6 linked regions of the Homo sapiens genome follow. The protein of the gene in region 5 interacts with the protein of the main gene of each other region in a pairwise test. Each region holds a gene or a part of one and is shown on either strand. Other genes may lie near its edges. The genes, in order: CCDC136, KPNA5, CCDC33, GLIS2, WT1 and KRTAP10-4.

Region 1 (3,500 bases), on a different chromosome or scaffold from region 5:
CACTTCCCACTTGATCTAGGCTTTGGCTCTGGTTACCTTTTTGCTCTCGGAAAGTCTGAGGGGGTTATTTTCTTCGGGACTTTCAAGGGAAGAGTCGGCGTCATCCTCCTCCTCTTCACTGTCTTCTTCCTTCTCCTCTTCCTCTTTGTCCTCTTCATTTTCCTCCTGATCTTCTGTGGATTTAGCTTCCTCAGGATCTGCTGGCTCAGCAACTAGCTCATCCCCACACTGCTCCTTTGCTTCCTCTTTCACTTGCTTTTTTTCCTCCTCCATCTCCTCTTTCTTTTCCTCCTCTTTTGCTAGTCCATCTAATTTCCTCTGGCTGGCCTTGTAGTACAGCACTACCTCCAGACTCTGTGGGGTGGGAGTAGGGCAGGATGGCGGCTGCGTTACCTGTGAAGCTCCTAATCTCATGACAATGCTGTACTAGCTCCAGGAAACATGACTTCCAGCATGTCAGAGTGCAAGGGTGTGGCCCGGTGCTCTGGGACTGTGAGCCAATCCCCTGAGCATATGTAGAGGGCATCACACCTCACCTCTCAGGGCCACTATGTCTGTTGGCCATTAAGCCATTTCAAACAGCTACCACAACTAAAGAGTCTTGGGCTCTGCACCTAAATTGTTGCTTCCCACCCCTACAGTGACTCTTCTTTTACCCAATCCTCTTTCACTTATTAGTACATAACTACTTTGAACAAATTCCTCCCTCTTCATCTATTTGGTTCTTCTCTTGGGCATGTAACCCAGGAAGAACAGGAGCCCCAACAAATGGGGCTGGGCAAACTGAAGGAGTTGTCCAGCCTAGGGGCTGTGGTCCTTTGGGGCTGCACCTCCCGATGTGAGTTGTCTGTGTTCCACTCTCCCCATAACTTCACAGGAAAAGGGAGCACCCACTTTCCATTAAGATGGGAACCACTGTAGACACTTCAGAGATCCCAGAAGCTTCTCTACAAATCCCTTGCCTGGTTGAAAGGGTTGTGGAGGCAATGCTTCTTCCCAGGATCTCCTCCTCCTTTCTGCTTATCTGGCTACCAAGGTTACTACTCACCTTTCTGGTCTCAAGGTCGCTCTCAGAAGTATCCGAGCATGGCTTGGTCACCTTTTTCATTTTAACCCCATTGGCATTCTTGTTCATGTTCTTATTAGCATTCTTCCCCCGGGCTTCTTTGACAACAGAAGGCCTCTTCTCCCTGAGCTGGCGGAGCTCCTCCTGGCAGCACTGCAGCTGCCCCTCCAGCTGCTCCTGCACTACCAGAAGCCGCCCCTGCTCATCCATGCTAGCCTGGTATTGCAGCTGCAGCTCCCGCAGCTTGGTCTGCAGTTCTTTGATCTGTTGGTAGTGGAGGGCCAGTTACCCAGAGTTGGCTGGTTATGCAACCAGTTGGCTGACCACGCAACCAAACTCAGCCCTGCTTGGGGGTCACTGTCTCAGAAATCTCCCTGTTAAAGCCCATAGGAAGTAGACAATAAAGAAAATATTCAACGGTGGAAAATGAGCCTCTCAAATAGTTTTACAAATAGCTTCTCCTAACTTGAGGCACCTGATGATGTCCATCTAATAAGATGAAAAAAACGGCAGGGCGCAGCGGCTCACTTGCCATCCAGTGTAATCCCAGCACTTCAAGAGGCTGAGGTGGGCAGATCACTTGAGGTCAGGAGTTCGAGACCAGCCTGGCCAACATGGTGAAACCCCATGTCTACTAAAAATACAAACATTCGCTGGGCTTATTGGAGCGCGCCTGTAGTCCCAGAAACTTGGGAAGCTGAAACAGGAGAATCACTTGAACCCAGGAGGCGGAGGTTGCAGGAAGCTGAGATCGTGCCACTGCACTCCAGCCTGGTGACAGAGCAAGACTCTGTCTCAAAAAAAAAAAAGAAGGTCAAAACAATGATTTAAATGGTGTTTTCTACTGTGACTGGGGAATAACAATAGGGCTGCTACCAATTCTGAACCTCAGGGATTTATTATATAATTCTTTTTTTTGAGACAAGAGTTTCACTCTTGTTGCCCAGGCTGGAGTGCAATGGCATGATCTTGGCTCACCGCAACCTCCGCCTCCTGGATTCAAGCGGTTTTCCTGCCTCAGCCTCTTGAGTAGCTGGCATTACAGGCATGCGCCACCATGCCCAGCTAATTTTGTGTATTTTTAGTAGAGATGGGGTTTCTCCAAGTTGGCCAGGCTGGTCTCAAACTCCTGACCTCAAGTGATCCACCCGCCTCGGCCTCCCAAAGTGCTGAGATTACAGGGGTGAGCCACCGCACCTGGCCTAGAATTCTTTTTATGGGAACTCCTACTTCATCCAACCCATCTCTCTAACAGGAACAATTACTTAAAGAACTGTGTTGTACACTCCTGAAGTGTGTACTGGGCTCCTGCACCTCACCCTGGAAACAGAGGCAAGTCACATCCTGCTCCCTGATCTCGGGTTTTGTCTTCCTTGGCTGATGGCAGCACACAACCATCCCCTCAGTAGGTACCAATACTAGCCAATCTGGACCCATGTGTTCGCTGCTCTCTGAATCTCTCCCGTGTGTATACAAAGAGACCCCCACTGGACCGTGAACCCCTGGCCAGAGACAAGACTTCTGTCCCATTCCTAGGGGGTGCAGAGCACTCTTCTTGGCATTGTGAGCGATCCAAAAGGAGACATGTCCCTGTCCTTGAGCTGCTTGCAATCTAGTTGGTGCTCCTAGTTGGTGCACCGGGAGACAAGGCAAATGCACACAAAATGATGAAAGAAGATTGGCAAATGCAAAAATACAGTTCTACAGAAGTGGTCTAGAACACAAAGCAAAAGAGAACAGAAGTGGCAAAGGGAGAAAGAGAGAAATCATTCGATGAGAGAAGTCCTGATGACTAGTAAACCCCAGCTCCACGGGCACTTGGGAAATGTCATCAGGGATGGAGCAGACTGCCCAGCCTCTGAGGTGCATATTCTCCCTGCTTTGTCCCTCTCTTTAGCCTCTATGAAGTGGCCATGACCTCTATGGCTCCAGGGGCTGCCAGAGGAAACCCTGCCTCCCTGACAGTGGTTACCTCATTCTTGTCGTTCTGGGGGGCCATGGGCTTTTCAAGGCATTCCATGCACTCCTTGAACTCCCTTTCACAGGCATCCAGCTCTTCCTTCAGGTCTTTCTGCTTGGCCAGTAACTTTTCCATCTGCTCTTGCAGCTGGCTGTGTTCCTCCTGGCTTATCTGGTACATGGCCTGCACCGCCTGCAGCTTGATCAGCACTTTCACAACCATTTCCTCAAAGCGCTGCGGGGGGTGGGGGAGCAACAATAGCACCCTGAGGAGCACCTAAGCTCCGCCCTACTCTGCTGGGCCCTTCCCTGGATACCAAACAATGGCCACCAGGATCCAGAGATGCCCGCGGGGGATTACTATATTTACCCCCATAAAGAGCATCGTGGCTGTGGTGAGGAAACGGACTGAATCTTATGGGCCTCTGTCCAGATGGGGGATTCTCTCTATGAGAGGGCTGAGCGGGAGACCAGG
Region 2 (3,500 bases), on a different chromosome or scaffold from region 5:
CCATACTGTGCTCTCATTGAAGAAGCATATGGTAAGCAATCAGTTAAAAATTTGCAATTATAGTCAGTTCTTATATCTGTCATACTTTCCCCTTCCAGTTCCCTACAATTTTTTTGTTGTAAAAGCAGTATGTATTTTTTTAAGTTTTAAAATGTCACCCGTAATTTTATTACCCTAACAATTTATTTTTATTATTTACCTTTTTTTAACATTGTCTGTATGCACAAATACTTTACATTGACTTAATTGTATTGTATGTATAGTTTTATGTTCTACTTTTTAACATTTTGGAGAAATTTTACATTTCTACATAATTTTTATTATAATGGCCACATAATGTTATGTATATACTATATATATATAAAAATATGTAATTTTTTTTTTTTTTTTTTTTGAGACACAGTTTTACTCCGTCTCCCAGGCTGGAGTGCGGTGGTGTGGTCTTGGCTCACTGAAACCTCCACCTCCCATGTTCAAGCAATTCATGTGCCTCAGCTTCCTGAGTAGCTGGGATTACAGGTGCATGCCACCATGCCCGGCTGATTTTTGTATTTTTAGTAGAGACGGGGTCTCTCCATGTTGGCTAGACTGGTCTCGAGCTCCTGGCCTCAAGTGATCCAGCCACCTCAACCTCCCAAAGTGCTGGAATTACAGATATGAGCCACCATGTCTGGCCATAATGCTACATATTGAGTCAAGTTTTAGCCATTTGAATGGAAGTTTAACCATAACCTGTTGTTGACCATTAGTTTGTTCCCAGTTTATCACTTTATGTATACCAAAATAAGCATCTTTCTGTGTATATGTTTATTTCTTTTATGGAATTAATATCTGGGGATAAATTTTCAGGAATACAGTTGCTGAGTCTTAGGGCACTGACTTCTTTTTAAGCTTTTGATGTCTTCTCATTTTGCTTTCCAAAGGCCTGTTGCTGACAGTGTCACTGGCATTGTATGAATCTATTCTACAACCTCATACTTGTTTTGTTTATTTTGTGGACTCAGCAGATGTAAAATAGTACACCAAGTTGCTTTTATGTACATTTTTTGGTTTATTTCCTATAGATAGTAGTATGTATTTTTCATGAGTTAGTCTGTGTCCTTATCCAAATTGCATATTTATTGTACTTTGTCTGGTTATCTATTTGACTTTTTTTTTTGGTAAAAATTTGAATTTTATTTTATAGTAGTTTATTTTGATATGACTTTTTCCTCGGTCTATTTTTTTTCAGATCATCCATTGAACACATTCTTTTATTTTAATAAAACATACCATGTTCATTTATGTTTAAATAACTCAGTCTAATTTTCTATTCTTTCAAAGTTTACAAAGTCATTGCCTCCACAGAGATTTGATGAAAATTAATTTTTTTATTTGCCAAGTTTTAAAAATTAGGTTCTTAAAACATTTAATCATATGGAATTTATTTTAGATAAGGCATGAATCTAAATTGATTTTCTTTTATTTGCATTAAATATTCACTTTTCTGTATTAAGTCCTCTTACATTGTATGGGTGATTCAGACTTTTATTTTTGATTCTTAAAGCCCATGATATCACTTTGTCTTTCTTTCAAATTATATAACATCACTGGATAAGACATTACATGAATACAAGATATTAGTCACTGATTTAAGAATATTGTCTTACTACAGTCATTATTTTGACCCCGAGTCAGACTAGGGTTTGAGCTATTCTGTGATTGTGTATAGATAGGACTGCTTTGCTGCTTTTTTTTCTGTGATAATCTGATTGAAGTCGTTTATCTGTAATTAAATGAAATGTATTTTCAGCACTACCCAGACTTACGTGTAGAGCTTTTTCTGATAAGCAGTAAAATCGATTGCTATAGATTCTTCTCATCTTTTCAAAATGAGGCCTTTCAGTTTCAATTGTAGATTGTAATTCTTTTAAACCGCACAACAGCCATATGTTTTTTATTGTATGGGTTTGGAAATTTTACACATTTATTTCATAGTGATACTCTCTGGCTCAGCGTGTTTTATTTTCTTCATTTAATTTGTTTTGTTGCTTTCCCTTTTTGGGCTTTGTTAATTACTCTAGAAAGGACCTGTGGAGTTAATCTAAAACTGCCATTTTACAGTTGAGAAACAGAAGAACTAAACTTACCTGGCCAAGATCACACACCTAGCAGGGTGGTGTCTGTGATCTTACTCCCAGGCCTATGGTCCTTCTTCGTATGACACTGCTACATACTCTCATTCTTGAAGTATAAATCGTAAGTGATGGCTATCGGTATGTGCAACAGTTAGATTAAAATAGTCCCGTTGCCAGTGAGGTGATAGATGATGTTCACTTATTATTTTGATTTAAACATATACTGAAATTGTAGTAACAGTTTGTTTATATATATATATATATATATATATATATATATATATATATATATATACTTTGTATAACAGGTCTGGATAAAATTGAGTTTTTGCAAAGCCATGAAAATCAGGAAATTTACCAGAAGGCATTTGATCTGATTGAACATTACTTTGGTGTAGAAGAAGATGACCCCAGCATTGTACCTCAGGTGGATGAAAACCAACAACAGTTTATATTTCAGCAGCAGGAAGCACCAATGGATGGATTTCAACTTTAACTTACTGGAGGAAAAAAAATTTATGGCTAAAAAGGGTAGCTTCAGGTAACTCCTCTTTGTTGCCAATGTAAGAATGTTTGTTTTTTTACATAGAACAGTAAAGAGAATTTGATGCACTTTTAGAAAGCAAAATGAAACAAAAATTTCCATTCAGATGCAACCTTTCATTGTAGTTTGTTGTTGTTTTAGTTTTGTTGTTGTGCCTGTATTTATATCTTCTATTGTTTGGATTTTTGTATCTATTTGTGAATAATTGAATATGCAATTATTTAGTAATTTAAGCTTGAAAAGGAGAATTTTGGTGAAGCATTACTTAGTAATTCTGAATTTTTTCAAGCATTCTTGGAAACTGCACATTAGCAGTAAACCTATTGATAATTGCATTTTGGCAGTAAGTCTTACACATCTAATCTCTACTAAATCTACCTCTATCTTGAAGCAGAAATAAAAACAAAAAAGCTTCAGAAGCATGAAATAATGCAAATGCTAAATTAGAATGTGAAAATATTTATTACCTTAAATTATACATATCACTGTGCTGTAGGTTATACTTTGCAAAAAATTGCAACAGAAAACCTATAAAATTTATTTATAAAACAGAAGAAATATTATACTGATAATCCATTAAAATGTGGCAATTGTGAAGGGAGAAGCTGTTTTTCATGTTGAACACATTAAAAAGATTACTTTATAAAATGTTTAAATATTTCTGTTTTTAACATATAAGTGCTATGTATATTAGTATATTTTGTATTTCAACCAAATATGCTACCATTTTTGAAATAGTGTTTTATTGTTTTTCACTCATTGTTTTAAAGAGCATCATGACAGAGATGTCATCATGAATCTAAAGTAGTGCTGCATATCTAAAATAATAACTAATTATT
Region 3 (3,500 bases), on a different chromosome or scaffold from region 5:
ACACTTTCAGTAGTTTTCCCATGGTCATGTTAGCTGGTATGTGGTGGAACCAGAATTTGGACCCAGACAGTCTGGCTCTAGAGCCTGAGCTCTGAACTCTCTTGTTATACACAGAGATTGTGTACTTGGCATGCTTCTCCTGTGTTACAGACGAGGACTCTTGTGGTTCAGTAATGTGCCTGAATTTCCACAGTGAGGATTTGAACTGTGGTTCAAATCAGGGTCTGGCTGGCTGAAAGCCTGAACTCTTGCACTGTCTCACAGGGTCACCCTGTACTTGTCTCCCAAGTTGCTCAGGGGCAATTTCTCTGGCTTGGTTCGTCATAGTCCCAGAGGCAAGACTGGCTTCTGGGGTTCCAGGGAGCTCCTCACTTCTAGACTGGGTGACTTCCCTGGTGGGTGCCTTGACAGAAGCTTCTGGAGAAGCCAAATTCTCCTATGGAGGTGTGGTGAGGTGGGGCAGGGTGAGGCAGGGTGGGGCCAGGTGGGCACGCTAGGGGCCCAGTTCAGGGCAGGGGGCTCACCATGATGGGGAGCCGCTCCACGTGAAGCCCGTCCAAGCCTTTCCCTGTCAGCATCTTCTGGTACAAACGGCTCTTTAGCGGCAACACAGAGATGCCCAGGGGCTGGTTGAGGGTCCACGGCTGGCTGCCTTTCACTGTGGGGGAAGGATCAACTAGGGCTCCTGCCAAAGCCCCCACCTCGGCCCCATCCTTTAATACCTGACATCCAGTCCTCCTGTCTCCCGCTGCCTGCTTTCCTGCCTCCTGGCCTTTCCCTGCACATACATCCTCTTCTCATCTTCAGGGCTTTGTGAACTCAAAGCCAACTCTAAACATACTCTGTGTGTCTGGGAATTTATATACATCAGCCTCATCTCTACCCTTTGGGGGCTTCAATCCCACAGTGCAGAAAACTGTGGATCAGCTGGTCTCTGAAGCCCATCTCCCTCACCCCTCTCTGTGAGTTCCGAGGGCTCCAGCCCTCCCCCATCACTGATGGGTGCAATAAAACAAAGCTTGGGGCCAAGACCTAGTATGGGACAGGCCCACGTGTCCTGGCCTGTGGACAAGGAACGCAGCCAGCTCTCCTCTGCCTGCATTAGGAAGCCGCCTGGACACCTGGGAACCATCCATCCCTGTGGGAGGCAGAGGTGGGATGGTCTGAACACCCTTTCATAATACAGATCTCCTGAGGCATGGCTGCCCTGGCGAGGCACCAGGGGTCACGTACTTGAAGTTGAGGAGTAGTACTCCAGCACCAGGGCTGTGTCTTCTGAGAAGCTGGTAGCTCCATCTCGGCCTTGGAAGAGGAAGGACTGATTCCACAGGGGCTGCTCTGGGGGTCCCCCAGGCTTGGACAGCTGGAGGGAGAGGGTAGGAGCAGGTGGTGGGGGCCACAGCTTCTCCCAAATCAAGGCATACACAGATATTTGGTTTTGTGTATCTAGATTTGTCACAAATGTTTCTCCCAACTATAAAAGCAAGCTGGCTGGGCACAGTGGCTCACGCCTGTAATTCCAGCACTTCGGGAGGCCAAGGCAAGTGGATCACTTGAGGTCAGGAGTTCAAGACCAGCCTGGCCAACATGGCAAAACCCTGTCTCTACTAAAAATACAAAAATTAGCTAGGTGTGGTGGGGGACTCCTGTAATCCCAGCTACCCAGGAGGCTGAGGCAGGAGAACTGCTTGAACCCGGGGGGGCAGAGGTTGCCCTGAGATGAGATTGCGCCACTGTACTCCAGCCTGGGTGACAGAGCGAAACTCCGTCTCTAAATAAATAAAATAAATAAATAAATAAATAAACAAATAAATGCAGCACACACCTAATAAATACATTTAGGAAAATGCAGAAAAATAGGAAGAAGAAAAACAGCTCCTGTGTTCCTATGATAAACACAATAATTCATAAAACTGTGCTTCTTCCTAGTTTTTTTCTGTGTATATTTTGTGTATAATCACCATTCTAGCATCCTGCATTTTTCATTTGCCAGTAAAACCTAAGCAGATCCAAAGTCACAGAAAGCTCATTACCCATGACTTGAGTAACTTCAGGATATGAAGTTCATGTCCAAGTGCCCTGATTTCTTCCTTCCCATTTTTCCCTGTAATAACACTGCATTGAACGTTCTCTGCTACATATCTTCATGTCGCAAATTACTTCCTTAGTACAACTACCTAAAATGGAATTGCTGGGTTATAGGACATGTGTATTTTAGGACACCTCATTCATTATTGGTAAACTGTTTTCCTAAAGTGTTGTATCTGTGTTCACACCCATGGCTGGTGGTGTCACAGATGCCAAGTTAGACATGACCTCTGTCTGTGTCACCAGCCCCTCTCTTTCCCACACAGTTTCCCCAGCCCCTTGCAGAGGCCAAGACATCTCTGCAGACTACAGAGGCTCCGTGTGCCCGCAGTGTGGGCCAGTGGGCACTCGGGGGACTTGATGGCACCCTAGGTCAGCAGTTAGGGCACACACATGGGTATGATTTAAACAATGAAACAAGACAGTATTAACTGTAGCACTGCCCAATAAGAGAGCTATATGAAATATTCCCATGGGTGGTCAGAAAAGCCTCCTTAAAGGAAGCAGAACCAGAGAAAGGCTCTGAAGGAAGGTCTGGCTGGGTGAAGAGAGGGATAAAGGTCTTCAGGATGGGAAAACAGCACAATCAAAAATGTGGAGTGGCACTGAGCACACCCTGTGCAGAGGACGCCTGAAATGAGGAGAGACTCCAGGGGGAGGCCCAGCATCTGCCAAGGCCAGAAGGTGGGAGATGGGAGATGGCCATCGGCCCATAACTCCCAGCAGGCAGCCCTGCAGGGTCCCAGCACAGGGCGGGGCTGCGGGTCGTTGCTACAGACCCACCAAGTGGCTGCCTTGCCTCTGTTCCCCAGCCAGGGGCTGTCAGCAACAGTAGCAGCCGCTCCCACCTCCTGCTCCCCCACAGGAATCAGTCATTGCTCGAAAAGGTCAGCACAAATGCACTGCGGCTCCAGGAGTTATTGATGCAGGATCATGAAATATCAGTGTAGGTCCACTTCCCCACAGTGGCAGGGTGCTGATGACGGTCACACTAATGGGCCTGGTTTGTCCAGGCCCAGCCCAAGGCTCAGCTGTGTCTGCCCCTGCCCCTGGGGAGATGGGTTGCAGTCACTGCAGGGCTAGGGTGCCCTGGACACCTGAACAGAGACTGCAATGATGGGAACATCCCACTTCTTATGGGAGCTTGGCCAACAGGTCCGGTGAGAGAAGTTGGTTCTGACTTCTGTGGGGCTTGGGAGTGATCTTTCAAGATTGATCCCCAAACCATGTCCCTCCCAGAGTCACCCCATTCTCCTGGGTGCAGGAGGGTCCACATGGCTGGGACTGTCTGCCAGGCATTGGGGCACCTGTGACTCAGTCCCCTGCCGTCCATACCTTGCTCCTACCCTGGAAGAGGGTTATTTAGTAGACGCTAGCTGCCCTTTCTGGGACCTATTCATGTGTCTAAATGG
Region 4 (3,500 bases), on a different chromosome or scaffold from region 5:
CACCCCATATCCATGAGGCTGACCCGGATCTGTGCCCAACCCCCTGCAGGAGCAGCCCCCCCCCTACACTGTTTCTCCCACCCCACCTTGGTCGGGGCACCCTCAAGGTCCGGTTCGATCTAGCAGGGCCTGGCGTTGGAATGCATGAATGCGTGGTTGGAGAACCGAGGCAGGAGGGCAGGCCAAGGTCCACCGCCCGCCTTACCCACTCCTGCTCTCGGAGTTGGCGGGTGCCGTTCCCAGTGGACCTGGTACCTGGCCCCAGGCAGGGGAGGCGTGGGCCACGGGCCTGCCCCGACCCCCCAGGACTTAGGAGCTCCTTGTGGGATCTGCCTGCAGCCAGGCGTGGCTTGGGAGGCGCGGTGTTTCCTTCGCTCTGGGGACCCGGCCTCATCCCTGCTCTCCCCCAGAAGCCAAGGCTCCTGAGTCCTGGCCCCGACACTGGGGCAAGGGGTTACTGTGATGTCCTGTGTGTGCCACATTTGTGCACAGGTGTCTGTACATCCGGGGGTGCTGTGGGTGCCTGCTCATGTCCTGTGCTACACTGGCCCATCCCTTTGCTGGCCTCAGATAGCTCTGGCTGGGTCTGCTGAGAATGGCAGTGCCGCCTGGCAGGGCCTGGGCTGTCTGTGCCCCAGCCTTGCTGGGCGTGCATCCCTGTCTCGCTCCCTGGTGCCAGCCCCTCCCAGGGATTTGGGTGGCAGGGCCCAGTGCTCTGGTCCCCTCCCCTCCCAGCCCGGGTGGGTGGGCAGGTGTGGGGGCTGCGGGGCGGGCTTTCCTCTGGCTGGGGCCCAGGTGCAGGCGGTGATCATAGCTCCAAGCACCCCCCCAAAGCTGGGCAGACAGGAAAATACCAGACATAGTTGTGCAAAGGTGCAGCAGCGGGCAGGCAGCGGGGGGGTGGAGGCCACTGCAGCAGGGGCCCGGAGCCACCAGGATGGGGAGGCCTCTGTGCCAGGCCGGCCCTGCAGCTGGACTGCCATGGCCATCTGTGTGAGTGTGCGTGTGTGTGCCGGGGCTCCCGGAGCCCGGTGTCACCCTCCCTGCTGGCGTTGGAGAAGGAAGTGCCTCTGGTGGGGCATCTCCTAGGAAGCCCGGGCTGGTGCAGGCCAGGGAAGCCCTCCGGCCCGTCTTCCAGCTTCAGCTCTGCCTGAATTATCTGGGTGACCTTGGCAGGCCCAAGTTGCTGTGCAGGGAACCCCCAGCCTGGGGCCGGAAACAAGAATCCTTTAGGTTACCAGTAGCTGGCAGCTTCTTTATGGCAGGCATGAGGACAAGGCCCTCCCTTGCAAGATGCCCTGAGTCCCAGGGACCATTGCCGTGGTGTCTGTTACCTACAAGGAAACCAAGGCTCAGAGACAGCAGGGCCTTTCTGAGTTCCCACAGCCAGGGGTGGCACAGGGGGCTGTAACCAGGCAGCCTGGCCCTGGGGCACACTCTGTGAACACGCAGAAAAAAGATCCCTGGCACATCCCATCTTCAGGTGCTTTCCCGAGGACCCCACGGCAGAGGGCAGAGGTCAGCCCTGGCTGGGTCACCTCGGACCCCTTGTGTTCCCACCCCGGGAGGGGGTCTGCCCTCCCAAAAGGTCCGGGGGTGCTGGCTGAGTGCCCCGTCTTGGGAGGGGGAGGGGCTGCCTACTGAGCCAAAGGTTCCCAGGGACGGTGAATCCCCCACTCTTCCAGGAAGTGCCGCCTGCCCTGGCCCCTCTCCTGGGATCTGCTGGGCCAGGCCTCAGGATAAGCTCCTCCCCCTCCAGTCCTGGGAGGAGGCCTGTCTGCGGCCAGCTCCTTCCAGGGTTGATCAGGCCTTCCCGGGGCCTTGTAGTGCTCTTTCTTTGATGCAGTTGGGCTCTGGAAGGTGGTTAGGGCCAGCTGTGGTCACTCCCCAGGATTGAAGAGGCCTGAGGTTCTTTGAGGGGCATAGGCTTGTTTAGGGTGCACGCTGGCTGGCAGGTGGCAGAGCCCAGGTTCTCCTGGTTCAGGGTGAGACTGCAGTGGCATAGAGGGGATGGCCAGTCCCCACTCAGCTGCCCTCACAGCGGTAGATGGGCCAAAGGCTATGGACTCATGCACACTGGCGACGATTCATTCAGCACGTTTTATTAAGCACCTACTATGTGCCAGGCACTGTTCTCCGTGCTGAACGTTACGGACGAAGGAGAAGCACTCAATAGTGATTGGATGTGCAGCACTGCATTGGTTTCTCCCTGAAACCCAACATGGGGGTCCTATATAATCCCATTTGGGATGAGGGGGATGAGGCGCAGACTGAAGAGACACGCAAAGGGAGTAGCAGAGCCGGGTGGGGCCCCAGATTTCGAGTCCGGTTCTGTTGCCTGGTCAGGAAGGGGGGCCCTGAGAGGACGAGCCCTCCTGCCTGGGGCCCCCAGCAGGCCCTGCCCCTGCCCGCCAGCCCCTGCTGCTGGGCGGCCAAGGAGGGTGGAGCTCTTGGCCAGAGCAGGGAGCCGCAGCTGGTTCCCAGGAATCTGGGGCTGTGGGGCCGTTTGCTTTGGCAGCAGATCTGCCCTCGGCTCTCCAAGCCTCCTGGTGGGCCCCCCACCCCAGCCAGCCCCTCCAGCGCCCACCCACTGCCTGCTCTGCTATCCCTCCTAGCCCCACAAGTCCCTGGGCGGGGAGGGGGTACCAAGCCTGAGCCCCTGACATAGGAAGGGCCAATAGTGAACATGGCTTCTGGACTTACCTGGGGTTGAAACCCAGCTCTGCCACGGACAAGCTGTGGGACCTTGGATGGGTCACTTCACTCCCCTGAGCCTCAGTTTTTGCATCTGTAAAATGGGGATGAAACAGCACCTGCCTTCACAGTACCCGCACCTGGCTATGGGTACTGTCCTCATGCTGCTTGCCCGTGGCTTCTGGTTGTGGGTTTGCCACCTACTTGTGCAGCCTGGGCTGGATGCCTCCCCCTTCAGCCCTCAGTTTCCCCATCTGTAAGACCATACTGCTGAAGTGATGGTTCCAGTAATAGACTCAGGGACACCCACAGACCAGGGTTTCTCTGACTGGTTCAGGAGTGACCAGGGACTCACTTCCTCTTTCTGTTAAATTAGAAGATGACGGGCTGGGCGTGGTGGCTCCTGCCTGTAATCCTAGCACTTTGGGAGGCAGAGACAGGAGGATGGCTTGAGTCCAGGAGATCGAGACCAGCCTGGATGACACAGGGAGACCCCCCCATCTCTGCAAAATAAAAAATTTAAAAATGAGCTGGGTGTGGTGGTGGTGCACCTGTGGTCCTAGCTGCTCTGCAGGCTGAGGCAGGAGGATCTCTTGAGCCTCGGCGGCAGTTAGCCATGACCACGCCACTGCAGTCCAGCCTGGGAGACAGAGCAAGACTCTGTGTCTTAAAAAAAAAAAAAAAAAAAAAAAAAAAGGCCAGACTTGGTGGCTCACGCCTGTAATCCCAGCACTTTGGGAGGCCGAGGTGGGCGGATCACGAGGTCAGGATATCGAGACCATCCTGGCTAACACGGTGAAACCCTA
Region 5 (3,500 bases):
GAGACCAGCCTGAGCAACATAGGGAGACCCTATCTCTACCAAAAAAAAAAAAAAAAATTAGCTGGGCATGATGACTCTCACCTGTTGTCCCAGCTGTTCAGGAGGCTGAAGTGGGAGGATTACTTAAGCTGGTGAGGTCGAGGCTGCAGGAGCCCCGATCGTGCCACTGCACTCCAGCCTGGACAACAGAATAAGATCCTGTCTTAAGAACAAACAAAACCAAAACATGGATGCACTCTTGTGTCAGCATCTCACCGCCTTTGGGGTTGATTTACTCATCTATAAAGGAATGAGGAGAATTTAGTGGCCACTCAGGCACTTGCTCAGCTCCCATTTATGACTCCCTGACCCCAAGAAGAGGAAGGGGAGCTTGCCTCTTTGTTTTCCTCCAGTTCTTATTCTTGGAAGACTGACAACACACACACTGCACTTCCACAAGATAAAGGGGAGCAACAGATGCCCTGCAAAGGACGTGTGCAGAGCACAGAAGGCAGATGGATTCCAGTGCTTTCTGGCCTCACTATTAAAGGTTGTGCTGGCTTCACCATGGCCTTCTGGTGGGTTTTGCTTCCTTTCACAGATGGGATCCCCAAATCCAGGGGCTTCTTCTTCCTTGTTATTTACTTATACTTGGACGATCTGGTCAGTTAGGGGCTCATTCATTATCCCACTTTTTTCTAATAAGGATGTCCCCACCCATTGCAGACTGGCTCTAGGTCATGTGGTCATGACTCCAAGTGGGAGGGAGTAGTTAGACTTTGGGACTTTGGACTTGCAGACATCACTACCTCAAGAGGAGAAGCTGAGAGATAGAATGGATTGGGAGCTCTTCCAGGTACCAGCATTTCTTTTGCAGAGGCTCTGGGACAGCCATTTCATGTAGGTTTCATCTCAACAGCCACTTCTGGTTGCTCAGTAGTGATGATCTTAGAGCACTGCATTGTAGAATGTCCTGATCTAGCATCCATTACTGATGTCTGCCATGGGGATCTGGAGTGTGAATGGGAGTGGTTTTAGGTCTGCACCTGCCACCCCTTCTTTGGATATACTCCAGTGCTCACTCTCCCTCAAGACCTACGTGAATGTTCACATGTGGCTTAAAGCCTCCCTTCCTCTTACTCTCTGCCTGCAGGATGTGCGACGTGTGCCTGGAGTAGCCCCGACTCTTGTACGGTCGGCATCTGAGACCAGTGAGAAACGCCCCTTCATGTGTGCTTACCCAGGCTGCAATAAGAGATATTTTAAGCTGTCCCACTTACAGATGCACAGCAGGAAGCACACTGGTAAGTGTGCCCGCTGTCCAGTCTTGGGCAAACATGGTTCAAGAGCTCCTTTTCCAGGCTCTCACACTGCTAAGGACCCAGGTTATTTCCAGGATGGAAAGTAAGCACTGCTTTGAAAGGTCTGATCCAGGTGTTGTAAAGAGGCTGTGGGGCCATTTTGCATTCTGATTATCTATCCTTTATTACAGAGGTCAGTAAACTGTCTTCCAGAAAGGCAGAGCAGAGTGGTAGAGAGAAAGTGCCACAGAATTAAAGAGACCTGTGTAGGAATCGTGTTGGTGTTAGAATACTATTAGCATTTCTAAGGAGAGAGGAGCTGGCCTGGGAATATAGTCATCAGATGGTTTTAGGAGGTCGATGGGCAAGATCATTGTGAAATTTTAGAAGAGATGGTCCAAAGAAAAACTTACCTGCTTGGGTCAGTAATAATCAACTAGACAGGAAGGGGAAAATTGATTGTTAGTTTGATTTTTTAGTGATCACTTAAAAAAAAAAGGTCAGTCATGGGGGCTCACGCCTGTAATCCCAGCACTTTGGGAGGCCGAAGTGGGTGGATCACCCAAGGTCAGGAGTTGGAGACCAGCCTGGCCAACAAGGTGAAACCCCGTCTCTACTAAAAATACAAAAATGAGCCGGGTGTGGTGGCACGCACCTGTACTTGGGAGGCTGGGGCAGGAGAATTGCTTGAACCTAGGAGGCAGAGGTTGCAGTGAGCTGAGATCTTACCACTGTACTCCAGCCTGGGCGACAGAGCAAGACTCTGCCAAAAAAAAAAAAAAGGAGAGAGAGAGATGATGATTTTTTATCTTTGAAGATACGCCAATGAAACTGGATTTTCCCCCAGGTCAGAGAGGCTGCTTCTGGGAAACAGAGAACTGGCATTGTTTGGTGTTGGCCACCTTGAATGTGGACAGCCATGTCACAGAACGTTTACTCTGGGCCTTGTGGGCACTAGGTGGGAGTGTGGGAGTGTGGTAAAACCCAGGTTTTCCTACAGAGGAGCTACTGCTGCCTTTTCCACAATCGAAGAACAGCATTATTATAGGATCACTGTTGCAACTGTGTTATTACTGCTGATTTTGCTCTTGGGAAGCTGGAGAAAAAAGTGAGCTGCATTCAGATTTCCTTGGACCATTGAAATTTGCTAATTCACTGTGTCCAGAGGATGCAATTCTGGTGTCAATCTGAGTTTGCACTCAGTGGGCCACAGACTTTGAGGCTAAAAAGGAGGGGACCAGTGGCATGTTATGTTTTTACACATTTCCCCAAATGGGATCATTTGAAAAGTGACTGTCAAGGTTATAAGGAAAACGAGAAAGTAAAGTCCTGCCTGAAAAATGCAAGGGAATAAATGAAGGCAATATGGTTGTAGAAACTTTTAGTGAGAGAGAAGCACTTAGAATGCAGTGAGGGTTAGACAACTGTGTGAAGGGAAGGCAGTGAACAAGACAGCCAAAACCCCAGACCCACTGGAGCCTTTAAGAAACTCTTCCTTGCAGAAGATGAGGGCAGGTTGGTATTTAACAATCCTACAGTCCCCCTTGAAAGAGAGCAATATTTTCTTATTTATTTATAACAACAGTACAGACTGTTATATTAAGTACTTTTTGGGTGTCAGGCTCTCTACATGTATATTTCATTTAATCCTCACTCACAAAACATTTATGAAGAGTATAGGATATAGCAGAAAGAGGACTCAAACTCCTTCTTTTTAACTGCAGGTTATAATCCTCCTTCTCAAAGAGTTCCTGGTTTGTTTGGGAGCTAGGATATAAAGAAATGAAAAGTGACTGAGAGAGTACATGATCATGTACTAAATCAGAGACAGGAGGTACCGAGGGGTTTGGAGGGTATCAGTTTGAACTAAGGTCATCCGAGAAAGTTTCTCAGAGGAAGAACAGCTTGGGTTAGCCAGTGGAGGCTGGTAGTTTGGGCAGAGAAAGTGATAGATGAGCAGAAGCTCAAAGGCAGGGGAAGGAAATCAGACTCAATAGGGGTAACATCTTCTCCAGCTCACAGAGGTGAAACATAAGGCACCAACCTGGATACAAATACAAAGAAAGGGGCCAGGTGCAGTGGCTCACACCTGTAATCCCAGTATGTTGGGAGGCGTAGGCGGGAGGATTGCTTAAGGGGTTCAAGACCAGCCTGGGCAATATAGTGAGACCCTGTCTCTAAAAAAAATATTTTTAAAAATTTAGCCAAGTGTGCTGGTGT
Region 6 (3,500 bases), on a different chromosome or scaffold from region 5:
GTCGAGGAGATGATTCTGCTCACACAGGGTGGAAGCGAAGCGACAGAGACCCAATTCCAATCGCCTGTCTGTGTTCCTCCCACCATGCCAGTGATGTCTGCACAGGGCACAAGAGGTTTTAGGCAATGTCGATGAAGACTACTGATTTTGAAGCTAGGGAGGCATTTGGACACACTCTGGGCAAGCATGGCGCTAGAAGACACCATTCTTATTTGACAAGTATTGTGCAGCAGAAGGATAATTTAAAAAGCAAATCAGCAAAAAGAACTATGACACGACTAACAACACAGGAGGGTTAGGGACAAACCCAAGGGCCCGAAATGGCCAAAGGGCTGCAAGGCTCCCCGCGTCCATGTCCGTCTAGCCTGGACCCCTGGGAACCACACGCCCCTGGGCACAGGAAAACACTCAGGGGCCTGAAGGACAGCAGAGGGTTGTGCACAAAGGAGAAAACCATGGCCGTGAGCTCCAGCCAAGGCATTAATCAACACACCTGGGTGTCAGCGCCATTGCAGTCTCAGGGCCTTTATTGGTCAGCTTGAGGGCGTCCAAAGAAGGCTCTGCGGCTCTGAGCCAGGAGGACAGAGACCTCACGGGTCAAGGCTGAACTGACCCTCATGAGAGGTGGGAGATATGGAGGGGAGGCCACTGCCATGGGAACTTTCTAGAAGCGCCCCCCTCCCCCCGCAAGAGGGCTGCAGCATTGAGTATAGACTTTCAGTTCTTCCATTGTCCAGCTCAACAGCAGACACCAGGAAATGGTCAAAGTGCAGGAGCAATTCAGGACGCGACTATCAGCTTTCAGGTGGGACCTGAGCCTGGCTGGCACTGGGGGGCGTGTCCATCAGCAGCTGGGCTTCTGACCTGAGCGGAGGCCTCAGCAGGCTGGGCGGGAGCACACGGGGCGTCAGAGGAGGGACACGCAGGAGGCTGGGCGGCAGCAGCTGGGTTGGCAGGAGGAGGTGGGAGCACAGCAGGAAGGGACGGGCACGCAGCAGGCGGGCCTGCACACGGGGCGGCAGAGGAGGGACACGGAGGAGGAGGGTCTGCAGCAGGAGGTGGTGCAGCAAGCTGGCTGGCAGCTAGATTGCTGGCAGCATGAAGAGGAAGCCCCAGAGCAAACAGGCACACAGCTCACAGGCTTGCAGCAGACGGGCACGCAGCAGCCCTGCTGGCTTTGGGAGGAGGTGCAGCAAGCTGGCTGGCAGCTAGACTGCTGGCAGCACAGAGAGGAAGCCCCAGAGCAGATGGGCACAGAGCAGACAGGCTTGCAGCACACAGGCTTGCAGCAGACAGGCACACAGCAAGCCTGCTGGCAGGGAGAGGAGGTGCAGCAAGCCGGCTGGCAGCTAGACTGCTGGCAGCATGAAGAGGAATCCTCAGAGCACACAGGCTTGCAGCAGACAGTCTTGCAGCAGACGGGCACGCAGCAGGCCTGCTGGCAGGAGGAGGAGGTGCAGCAAGCCGGCTGGCAGCTAGACTGCTGGCAGCACGAGGGCGTGCAGGAGCTGATGCAGCCTGATTGGCAGGGGCTGGGCTCACAGACCGCCTGGCAGCAGGGGCTGGACACACAGCTCACACAGCTAGACTGCTGGCAGCACGAAGAGGAAATCCCAGAGCAGACAGGCTTGCAGCAGATGGGCACACAGCAGGCCTGCTGGCAGGGGGAGGAGGTGCAGCAAGCTGACTGGCAGCTAGACTGCTGGCAGCATGAAGAATCCCCACAGCAGACGGGCACACAGCACACAGGCTTGCAGCAGACAGTCTTGCAGCAGACGGGCACGCAGCAGGCCTGCTGGCAGGGGGAGGAGGCACAGCAAGCCAGCTGGCAGCTAGACTGCTGGCAGCACGAGGGCGTGCAGGAGCTGGTGCAGCCTGATTGGCAGGGGCTGGGCTCACAGGTCACTGGGCAGCAGGGGCTGGACACACGGCTCACTGGGGTGCAGACCAGGCTCAGGCAGGGGGCCGGGGCGCAGCAGCTGGGGGCGCAGCAGGGGGGCTCGCAGCAGCTCTCTGGGCAGTCGTCCACCTGCCAGGAGTCGGAGCAAGAGTCACAGGAACCAGGAAGGCAGACGCGGCTGCTGTAGCTCAGGTCGCTGGAGCAGACGGACATGGTGGATGCTGCTGTGCTGGGGGTTGAGCTGGGGGAGATGGGAGGGAGTGGGTGAGCGAGTGAGTGAGGTGCTCGGGTTTGTGGGGCTTTTATACTCCTCCTTGGTGCATGTTGTCCAGACAGGAGGCTCAGCAAGCCCTCCCTTCCTTGTTGGGGTGTACAGCCAGCTCCAGGAGAATAAACAGTAGCTGTGTTTTTGTTTCCCAAGAGCTGTTGCTCAGTTTACAAAACTTGGAATTGGCCTGGGGCGCATGTGCGTGTTTTAGACTCAGGAGGAAGAGCTGAGGGGCAGTTCAGGCTGTGCTGCTTTGCTCCCCAGGCGCACGTGGAGGGTGGCATGGTCCACGTGTGTGCCGGGCTATGGGGAGTGGGTGCCTGCGGGTGGCTCTGCCGTGTGTGTGCTGGACTATGAGGAGTGGGTGCCTGTGGGTGGCTCTGCCGTGTGTGTGTGCCAGGCTATGGGGAGTGGGTGCCTACGGGTGGCTCCGCTGGGCCTTGGTTTTCTAGGCTGCTGAACAAGATCATGTGCCTCTGTGATTGAAAGCTTAGGGAGAGAGGTTTGTTTGGGTTCTAAGTAAAGATAATGTGAGTCATGGTTTGTATGCTGTAATGTATTCTTTTCCTTGGGCTGCCATGACAAACAGTACCACAAACTGGCTGGTCACACAACAGAAATTCCGTGTCTCATGGTTTTGGAAGCCAGAAGTCTGAGATCGAGGTGTGGACAGTGGACAGCATGGGTTCCTTCTGAGGCTGCGAGGGGCACTGTCTCACCCCGCTCCCCTCACTCCTGTGGGCTGCTGCTATCTTTGGGGTCCTTGGCTTACAGTGGCCTCACCTGAGCTCTGCCTTTATCTTCACACAGCTTCTCCGTGTGTGTGTGTGTGTGTGTGTGTGTGTGTGTGTGTGTGTGTGTGTGTGTGTCCAAATCTCCCCTTTTTATAAGGATACAAAGCATTATTGCAGTAGGGCCTATCCTAACAGCCTCCTCTTAACTTGATCACCTACAAAGACCCTATTTCCATATAGGGTCACATTCACATGTACCAGCGGTCAGGACTTCGGCACCTTTTGAGGGACACAATTCAATCCACAGCAAGCAGACACAATGGCAGAACCTGGGATGAGGACGTGGGCACGGGAGCAGAACCCGGGATGGGAAGGCAAGCACGGCAGAAGTGTTTCTTGTGGACTTGGGCCTGGGGCAGGTGGAGCATGGGGGGTGGCGAGGGTAGCACAGGACAGCAGGTGCCCAGCACTGGGCACTCAGCAGCCTTTGCTTGTGAGGTGTGGCTTGACCTCGTGGAATGGTTTTAGGGAATAGTGGCTGAAAAGCGGGGTTCACATCGCCCTTTGCCAGCTTCCCGACACCACCGCAGGTTGGTTC

What was found.
Region 1: the proteins of WT1 (region 5) and CCDC136 interact in a two-hybrid assay, tested with the Homo sapiens proteins (one large-scale study listed by BioGRID and IntAct).
Region 2: the proteins of WT1 (region 5) and KPNA5 interact in a two-hybrid assay, tested with the Homo sapiens proteins (one large-scale study listed by BioGRID and IntAct).
Region 3: the proteins of WT1 (region 5) and CCDC33 interact in a two-hybrid assay, tested with the Homo sapiens proteins (one large-scale study listed by BioGRID and IntAct).
Region 4: the proteins of WT1 (region 5) and GLIS2 come close enough for resonance energy transfer, tested with the Homo sapiens proteins (one large-scale study listed by BioGRID).
Region 6: the proteins of WT1 (region 5) and KRTAP10-4 interact in a two-hybrid assay, tested with the Homo sapiens proteins (one large-scale study listed by BioGRID and IntAct).

What each region holds. Positions count from the first base shown.
Region 1 is NC_000007.14:128,812,468-128,815,967, reverse strand, and holds part of CCDC136 (coiled-coil domain-containing protein 136), read right to left. Parts: intron 3,261-3,500; coding exon 3,039-3,260; intron 1,331-3,038; coding exon 1,049-1,330; intron 355-1,048; coding exon 37-354; intron 1-36. UniProt on the Homo sapiens protein: May play a role in acrosome formation in spermatogenesis and in fertilization.
Region 2 is NC_000006.12:116,729,711-116,733,210, forward strand, and holds part of KPNA5 (importin subunit alpha-6), read left to right. Parts: coding exon 1-31; intron 32-2,425; coding exon 2,426-2,613; 3' UTR 2,614-3,500. UniProt on the Homo sapiens protein: Functions in nuclear protein import as an adapter protein for nuclear receptor KPNB1. Binds specifically and directly to substrates containing either a simple or bipartite NLS motif.
Region 3 is NC_000015.10:74,277,826-74,281,325, reverse strand, and holds part of CCDC33 (coiled-coil domain-containing protein 33), read right to left. Parts: intron 2,208-3,500; exon of another isoform or gene 2,034-2,207; intron 1,364-2,033; coding exon 1,234-1,363; intron 659-1,233; coding exon 525-658; intron 1-524.
Region 4 is NC_000016.10:4,322,567-4,326,066, forward strand, and holds part of GLIS2 (zinc finger protein GLIS2), read left to right. Parts: intron 1-2,081; exon of another isoform or gene 2,082-2,209; intron 2,210-2,703; exon of another isoform or gene 2,704-2,788; intron 2,789-3,500. UniProt on the Homo sapiens protein: Can act either as a transcriptional repressor or as a transcriptional activator, depending on the cell context. Acts as a repressor of the Hedgehog signaling pathway. Represses the Hedgehog-dependent expression of Wnt4.
Region 5 is NC_000011.10:32,394,040-32,397,539, reverse strand, and holds part of WT1 (Wilms tumor protein), read left to right. Parts: intron 1-1,132; coding exon 1,133-1,283; intron 1,284-3,500. UniProt on the Homo sapiens protein: Transcription factor that plays an important role in cellular development and cell survival. Recognizes and binds to the DNA sequence 5'-GCG(T/G)GGGCG-3'. Regulates the expression of numerous target genes, including EPO.
Region 6 is NC_000021.9:44,572,372-44,575,871, reverse strand, and holds KRTAP10-4 (keratin-associated protein 10-4), read right to left. Parts: upstream 2,144-3,500; 5' UTR 2,114-2,143; coding exon 908-2,113; 3' UTR 501-907; downstream 1-500. UniProt on the Homo sapiens protein: In the hair cortex, hair keratin intermediate filaments are embedded in an interfilamentous matrix, consisting of hair keratin-associated proteins (KRTAP), which are essential for the formation of a rigid and resistant hair shaft through their extensive disulfide bond cross-linking with abundant cysteine residues of hair keratins.